2 linked regions of the Homo sapiens genome follow. The protein of the gene in region 1 purifies or fractionates together with the protein of each later gene. This does not show direct contact. Each region holds a gene or a part of one and is shown on either strand. Other genes may lie near its edges. The genes, in order: ASCC3 and CGAS.

Region 1 (3,824 bases):
AAGGTCAAATTGAGAAAACAAATTTTAAATATTATGTTATTCATTCACTAAGCAAATATTTATAGATCACCCACCATATATTAGATATTTTATGAGGCTCTAGAGATTAAAAAAAGAAAAACATTTTGATATGATTGCACTTGCCCTCAATGATGAGCTTACAGTATGGTTGGGAAGAAAGAAAAATAGTTGCAATAATTATGCAGCTATAACTGTAGGAAGACAGGGAAGGAGCATCTAAAGGGGTGGGAGGGCACTAGATATAAAGAAGGAAGCTGAGCTTGAGCTGAGACTTAAAGGACCTAGACAAGGTTATTACAAGAGGTAAACTATGAGGGGGAAAGCCAAAATAACAGACTTAATTACTTTTAAAACCCCTACAGAATGTGCATTTGGAAACTGATGAAATAAGACCTAAAAATGTAAGCAGAGACCAAACAACATGTCTCAAATTAGGCACTTTTCATTCTGATAATCAGAATCACTGAAAAAATACTAACATGTTACAGAAAAATTACTCAGATTTACATGTGGTGAACTGTCAAGGTGGGGTCAAACAGGACACAGGCAAACCAGTTGGGAAGTTATTTCAATAAACCAACTGAAAGACAGAGAGGATAGAATTAAGCCAGGGAAACACATAAAAGGATGGATTTAGGAGATCAGTATACTTGGAAGACAGAATCAATGTGGAATAGGATTTAAAGAAGGAGAAAGGAGCAGGACACTCAAATTTCTGGCTTAGGAAATGTTGAAGAGTGGAGGAGTCTATATGTATAGAGGGCATCAGGAAGAGGAATGATAATTCTGTTTTGGAAAACTTTAATTATGGGCTATCAAGTGGGGCATATGGTTTTGGATTTCCTATCAGAGGTCTGGGCTGGAAATCCAGAATTTCATGTTATCACTTCATCATAGTTAAAACCATGGATGAACATAATATTGTCTAAGTCAAATATACATAAGCCCATGGACCCTCTTCCTAAGAAAACAGACATACATACATATAAACAACATTTTGTACTCCATTTCAAAAGCTGCATGAATGCCCATTCATGCACTCCACCCCTAAAGGCCTCTTGGAAGTAGACAGTAGAGAGTTAAGAACAGAGTTCTAAGAAAGTGATCCACAAATCAGTTGTCATATGGAAAAGTGATATGACAACAGAAAAGAAAGTTTCAAATGACATGATACAGTCCACTGTACTCAGCCACTCTGCGGTCCTAGATGACTAGCACACCTAGTTTCCAAAAATGGTAGAAGCTAAATCTCAGTGAGTTGAAGGATAAACGCAAAGGGAGAAAATAGGGAAAAAACAAACAAACAAACAAAAAACCCTACAAATGGGTACATGCTATTCTTTCAAGAAAATGAGAAAGAAAAGGAGAAAAAGTAGGAAATACTGAAATAATGTGGTTTAAGAGTTTCTGAAAATAAAGGATAGAGTTGATCATGATTTTATCATAATCAGGGGAGAGCAAAGAGAGAAGGAAAAGTTGAGCAATCAGGAGAAAGACTGTGACTGATGGAGTAGGGTCTCTGAGAATGCAGGCGAGAATGACAACAAAAGCATAGGTCTAGAGAGACTTGGATAGATGAAGGAGTACGGAAGGAAGGATGAGTGGAAGTGCATATGGTTATAACATGGTTAAGCAGAGGGTGAATGAGGAGAGAAAAACATGGTAAAAGGGAGTTCCACCAAAATGACTCTGATTTTATTTGAGATATGCTAAGACTGTTCAAACAGGTGATGAGGTGGGATTTTTTCTAACACAGAGGCAAAAGTCTGAACTTACCACCCACAATAATAGAAGAAATATTTTTCAGGTAGCAATGAATGCTCAGCTCATACTGCAAACAATTTAAGGTGGCAATAATCTGGCATAGGAACAAAGGTTGGTGTGAACCAGGGTTAAGGTTTTGTAACACAGAGGCAGTGGGACAATGAAGCCTAAATGATAAGGGTTATTAAGTGCTTAACTTTAGGCCTAGATGAAAGGAAAAGATGTTCAACTAGGAGGTCTTAAAGATGAATCATAACATTCATAGTTAAAATTTCTGGTAAGATCACAGTGAATAAGGATTAAGAAAAACTGGCCTACATATCAATTTTTACCTTACTAATTTTTACTCCACATTTAATATGGTCCACTAAATGACAAATATATAAATGAAAAATTCTGTTAATAATAAATATTTAATGCCCCAGAACAAATATAATTTCTAAAGGATTGAAACCCTAAAAGCCTACTTCTGTTCGTCAGAAGTACTGGCTGTGGCTATCTGAACAAATCTTTAAATTGTTAATTAAACATACGTACAGGTAAAAAGAAAGTCTTAAAAATGTAACTGTCCTTTTTTACATTCCAAATAAGGAGAAAACTAAACTGATGGTAGCATATTTCCTTTTGCAAGATGATATTAACCAATAATCAGTGAGCTAGAATTCCAGTACACACTATTCTGAAGTACTACATTTAAAATTGTAATGTTTATTCTTCTTAAACCAAACCTGTGTTTCTAAACTCTAAAGATGGTCTGACTGCTTGATAGCAACTTTAGGAAAAGATAGTTACTGTATTTTTTCGTTATAAAAATATGAAAAGATCTCCAAAACAGCCAAACTATATTTCCTAATAAGTTTAAAGTCAGCACTTAGTTACTGGCAATTATGGATACTAGGGAATTATTAAAGGGACAAAAATAGTCAAAGTGATATACTGCAGATTAAGGGATAAAAACACTGACATGAAGGAGTAGGTTGTAAATGGAGTAAAATTAGAATTTAAGATTTCAGTACTTAAAATAGAATCTTGTACCCACAAACCACACCTTGAAAAATGAACAGTGAATAAATATTAAACAGTGAATAAGAATATTTATATTTTATTGTGCCTTTTTTAAAAATTGAGTTGTGATATTGTTAACATTAGCAAGATCAGAACTCAGAAAATAACCATCGTCGACACATATTTATAATCCTCCATTATGCGATTTCAAAAGGGGGTGATTTTTTCATGATAAATCCTAAAGATAATTTAATTTCTTACTTGTATTAAACCTTATTACCATCAATTGGTTCATACAGCAGAGTCTAGGCACATTTAACTTTCTTGAATCTACCAAACACTGTAGGCCAAAAAAAGGAAGGCAGAGACAGACAAAAACAATAATTACTAGAGATTCTGCTTACCATTTCAGGTATTGAATATCTGCTCCAGAGTGAATGGGGGATGGGCAACAAGAATCTTGCTCTTTTAGTCTGTTTCAATCACCACATGCATCTCAAAATGTGAGCATCTTGCTGCATTGCATGATTCTAGTTTTTAACACTTTTTCTCTTTTTTTAAAAAACATACAAGGTGGTGACCAAACACAGAGCAACTTTTTCACTGGGAGTTCATCTAAAGAAACTGTGATACATTCCAAGTCAGGATGAAAAACATGGCTGTGTAGGACATGCTGAGAGACAGCATGTTATGCCAACTTGATGTCCTTTTAAGGGATTCTCAAAGGTAATCTTAGCTATTCACAGTTTCCACCTAACAAGTTCACTTTAGATGCTAACTCATTCTTAAGCAAGAAGCAATTGCTCCTGAATAGTTCTCAATCAAGTTAGGAAACACATCTGAAGCATGCAGAACAGAGAAAGCATGACAAAAATAATAAAACACATAAACACTTTTCACACAATACAAAATATATAATGGTTAAAAACAACCAAATTTCTATGGGGCTCTTATTCTCTAACTTATCCTCTAACTAGGTTTCCCATTCAAAGGTGGGGGAAAAAAATCCTGGACAGGCTCATAACTATAAAGCA
Region 2 (3,824 bases), about 27 Mb from region 1:
CCCTCCATCTACCTTTCAAAGGCCACCTCTGCCCATAGTCTCTGGATCCCTTCCTTCTCAACTTCTCAAGTACCATGCTCTTCAAGTATTTCCTCTCCTACATCAGCCATCTCTCCCTCCCTGCTAGATTATTCTGAAATTCATACAAAGGGTTATAGGGTATACCTCTCCTTTCACCCCACATCTTCCTCCTCTCCATACTCACCCATCTTTCTGCTTCCTTCCAGCCCAAACTTTTTTTTTTTTTTGAGACAGGGTCCCGTTCTGTCACCCAGGCTGGAGTGCAGTAGCGTGAACATGGCTCACTGCAGCCTCAACCTCCTAGGTTCAAGCAATCCTCTTGCCTCAGCATCGTATGTAGCTGGGACCACAGGCACATGCCACCACTCCTGGCTAATTAAAAAAATGTTTTTTTCTTTTTTCTTTCTTTTTTTTTTTTTTTTTTTCTGAGACAGTCTTGCTCTGTCGCTCAGGCTGGAGTGCAGTGGCGCAATCTCAGCTCACTGCAACCTCTGTCTCCCAGGCTCAAGCAATTCTTTTGCCTCAACTTCCTGAGTAGCTATGATTATAGGTGTCTGCCACCACGCCTGGCTAATTTTTGTATTTTTAGTACAGACGGGGTTTCATCATCTTGGCCAGGCTGGTCTTGAACTCCTGACCTTGTGATCCGCCCACCTTGGCCTCCCAAAGTGCTGGGATTACAGGCATGAGCCACCATACCTGGCCTAAAATTTTTTTTTGTAGAGATGGACTCTCACTTTGTTGCCCAGGCTGGTCTTGAACTCCTGGGCTCAAGCAATCCTTCTGCCTTGGCCTCCCAAAGTGCTGAGACACCACAGTTAGCCCAGACAGAACTTTCTAGAGTGGCCTACACATGTTATCTCCACTGCAACCCTGCCTTTTCACTCTGTGTCCATCACCCCACTGACATTTCTCTTGTCAACCCCACAAGACCAAAGAACAAATCCATTGGATTTCTGGATGTCAGTAGCATTCCAAACACTGACCGCTCCTTCTACAAAACACTCATAGTCTCCTTTTGTTCATTCTCTTCTTCCCAAACTCTTTTTTTTTTTTTTTTTTTTCTGAGACAGGGTCTCACTCTGTCGCCCAGGCTGGAGTTCAGTGGCGCGGTCTCAGCTCACTGCAACCTCCGCCTTCTGGGTTCAAGAAATTCTCTGCCTCAGCCTCCCAAGTAGCTGGGATTACAGGCACCCGCCACCACGCCCGGCTAGTTTTTTGTATTTTTAGTCAAGACGGGGTTTCACCATCTTGGCCAGGCTGGTCTTGAACTCCTGACCTCGTGATCCACCCGCCTCGGCCTCCCAAAGTGTTGGGATTACAGGCGTGAGCCACGGCGCCTGGCTCTTCCCAAACTCTAATGGAATTCTCTTCTTACCACTCTACTTAACATTGCAACTTCCCCCCCACCTCCATCTCCCACATTCCTGATCCCTCTCACTTTGCTATACTTCTTCACAACAGCACTTACTACTTTCCAGTATACAAGATAATCATTTTTTCCATTTGTTATTAATTGTACGTCTGTGCTTGCAAGATAAAGCTCTTAATCTAATAGCGTAATAACATACAACACAAATTGCAGTGAGTGCTCTGAAGGGAATAAACTGGGAAAAGTGATAGCAATTAGGGTGGAATGGGGTGGTGGAGCCAAGCCCTGAGGCAGAAAAAAAGAGCTTGGAAAGATCTAGGAACAAAAAGAGACTCTTTCGGAAAAGATGAAGTTATATGAAATGAAGCTGAAGAGGCAGCCAGGGACCAGATTCTGTACTGACTTGTAGACCCTGAAAAGGACTTTAGATTTCATTTTATTTTTGAGACGGAGTCTTGCTCTGTCGCCCAGGCTGGAGTGCAGTGGCACGATCTCGGCTCACTGCAACCTCCACCTCTCGGGTTCAAGCGATTCTCCTGCCTCAGCCTCCCGAGTAGCTGGGATTACAGGCATCCACCACCACGCCTGGCTAATTTTTGTATTTTTAGTATAGATGGGGTTTCACCATCTTAGCCAGGCTGGTCTTGAACTCCTGACCTCGTGATATACCTACCTCAGCTTCCCAAAGTGCTGGGATTACAGGTGTGAGCCACTGCGCCTGGCCAGATTTTAATTTAATTTAATTTAATTTTATTTTATTTTGAGATGGAGTTTCGCTCTTGTCACTCAGGCTGGAGTGCAATGCCCCGATCTCGGCTTACTGCAACCTCTGCCTCCCAGGTTGAAGCAATTCTCCTGCCTCAGCCTCCCAAGTAGCTGGGATTACAGACATGTGCCACCACACCCGGCTAATTTTTGTATTTTTAGTAGAGATGGGGTTTCTCCATGTTGGCCAGGCTGGTCTCAAACTCCTGAGCTCAGGTGATCCACGCACCTCAGCCTCCCAAAGTGCTGGGATTACAGGTGTGAGCCACTGCGCCTGGCACCAGATTTTATTATCTGATCATTGAGAAGCCAGGTTTTCATCAGAGAGTAATGACTGGCTTTGTATTTTAAAACATTTACTCTGGCTTCTAAGGACAGATATTATAAGAAGGCAAATAGGGAGATTAGAAAGGAAAATGATGTAATAGTTCAGGTAAAAGATGGTGGCAGCTTAGGTGGGGTGGGAGTAGGGTGCTGGGATTGAAGCAGCAGACAGGTCCAAGCTGTAGCAGCACTTGCATCTGGATTAAGCGTAGGGGGTAACAGAGAGGATTAAATTAAGATGGTTCCCAGGTTTCTGGATGGTGCGTCTGGGTGGATTGATTGTGCCATTTTCTGAGATGGGAAGGACTGAGGCAAAACATAGTTTGGTATATGAATTAAGTTATGTTTATTCGCTTTGGATATGTTTGGTTATAGATTCCTGTGGTACATCAACATCAAAGTGGATATGTTAAGGACGTAGCTGGATATAGGTTTGGAGTGCAAAGGATATATTTGGGCTGCAAGTAAACATTTGGGAGTCATCATCATATAGGTGGCATTGGGAATGGATGAAATACCTAGGCAGAGAGTGTAGATTCATTTATCCATCAATTTAATAAATATTCATTGATTATTTCATATAATTTAATCATTTAATTTAATCAATATTCATTGATTATCTAATGTGTAGGTGTTCTAGTTATTTAGGATTCATTAGAGAACAAATAGATAAAGACCTCTACCCTTCTGTACTTTATAATCTTGTAATCATATTATAAGTAATTGCCAATGTACACTCCTCTACTGATGTTTCTTGACCTCTCTACTGCACTTTTTCTTACTGCAGAGAGGTCAAGAAACATGAGAATGGGAGTGTACATTGGCAATTACTAGGTATAATTAAACCTTTAAGAATCAAAAGGCAAAAGTCTTACCTTTAATGTCGTTAATTTCTTCCTTAATGATTTTCCTAAACTTTGACAGCATCTTAGAAGCTGATAATATTTCACCTTCTAAAAACTGACTCAGAGGATTTTCTTTCGGATTTCTTTTAAATTTCACAAAGTAATATGCACGAGTGTTGGAATATTCTTCTAGTTGAATTCTGGGGACTTCCAGTTTAAACATGACATCAAATTCATTAGGTGCAGAAATCTAAGAAACAGTAAAAATAGTACTGAAATATTTGCTTATGAATATTTTCCAAGTGACTGGAACTTTTTAAAAAATTTCCACTTAAAACTTTACTTTAAAAAGCAAGATTCATAATGTCTATATATACCCTCTGGGAGTGGGACTAGTGGAGCTGGCAGGAGGTGGAAGAGTATTACCAGTTTCATTTTGTAGGTTCTACACTCAATTAATTTTTTTTACCATGACCTAGTATTATTTTTATAACTAA

Evidence for each region.
Region 2: the proteins of ASCC3 (region 1) and CGAS purify together in Homo sapiens (affinity purification with western blotting; one study listed by BioGRID). This does not show direct contact.

The regions. Positions count from the first base shown.
Region 1 is NC_000006.12:100,874,547-100,878,370, forward strand, and holds part of ASCC3 (activating signal cointegrator 1 complex subunit 3), read right to left. Parts: intron 1-3,824. UniProt on the Homo sapiens protein: ATPase involved both in DNA repair and rescue of stalled ribosomes. 3'-5' DNA helicase involved in repair of alkylated DNA: promotes DNA unwinding to generate single-stranded substrate needed for ALKBH3, enabling ALKBH3 to process alkylated N3-methylcytosine (3mC) within double-stranded regions.
Region 2 is NC_000006.12:73,442,171-73,445,994, forward strand, and holds part of CGAS (cyclic GMP-AMP synthase), read right to left. Parts: intron 3,578-3,824; coding exon 3,358-3,577; intron 1-3,357. UniProt on the Homo sapiens protein: Nucleotidyltransferase that catalyzes the formation of cyclic GMP-AMP (2',3'-cGAMP) from ATP and GTP and plays a key role in innate immunity.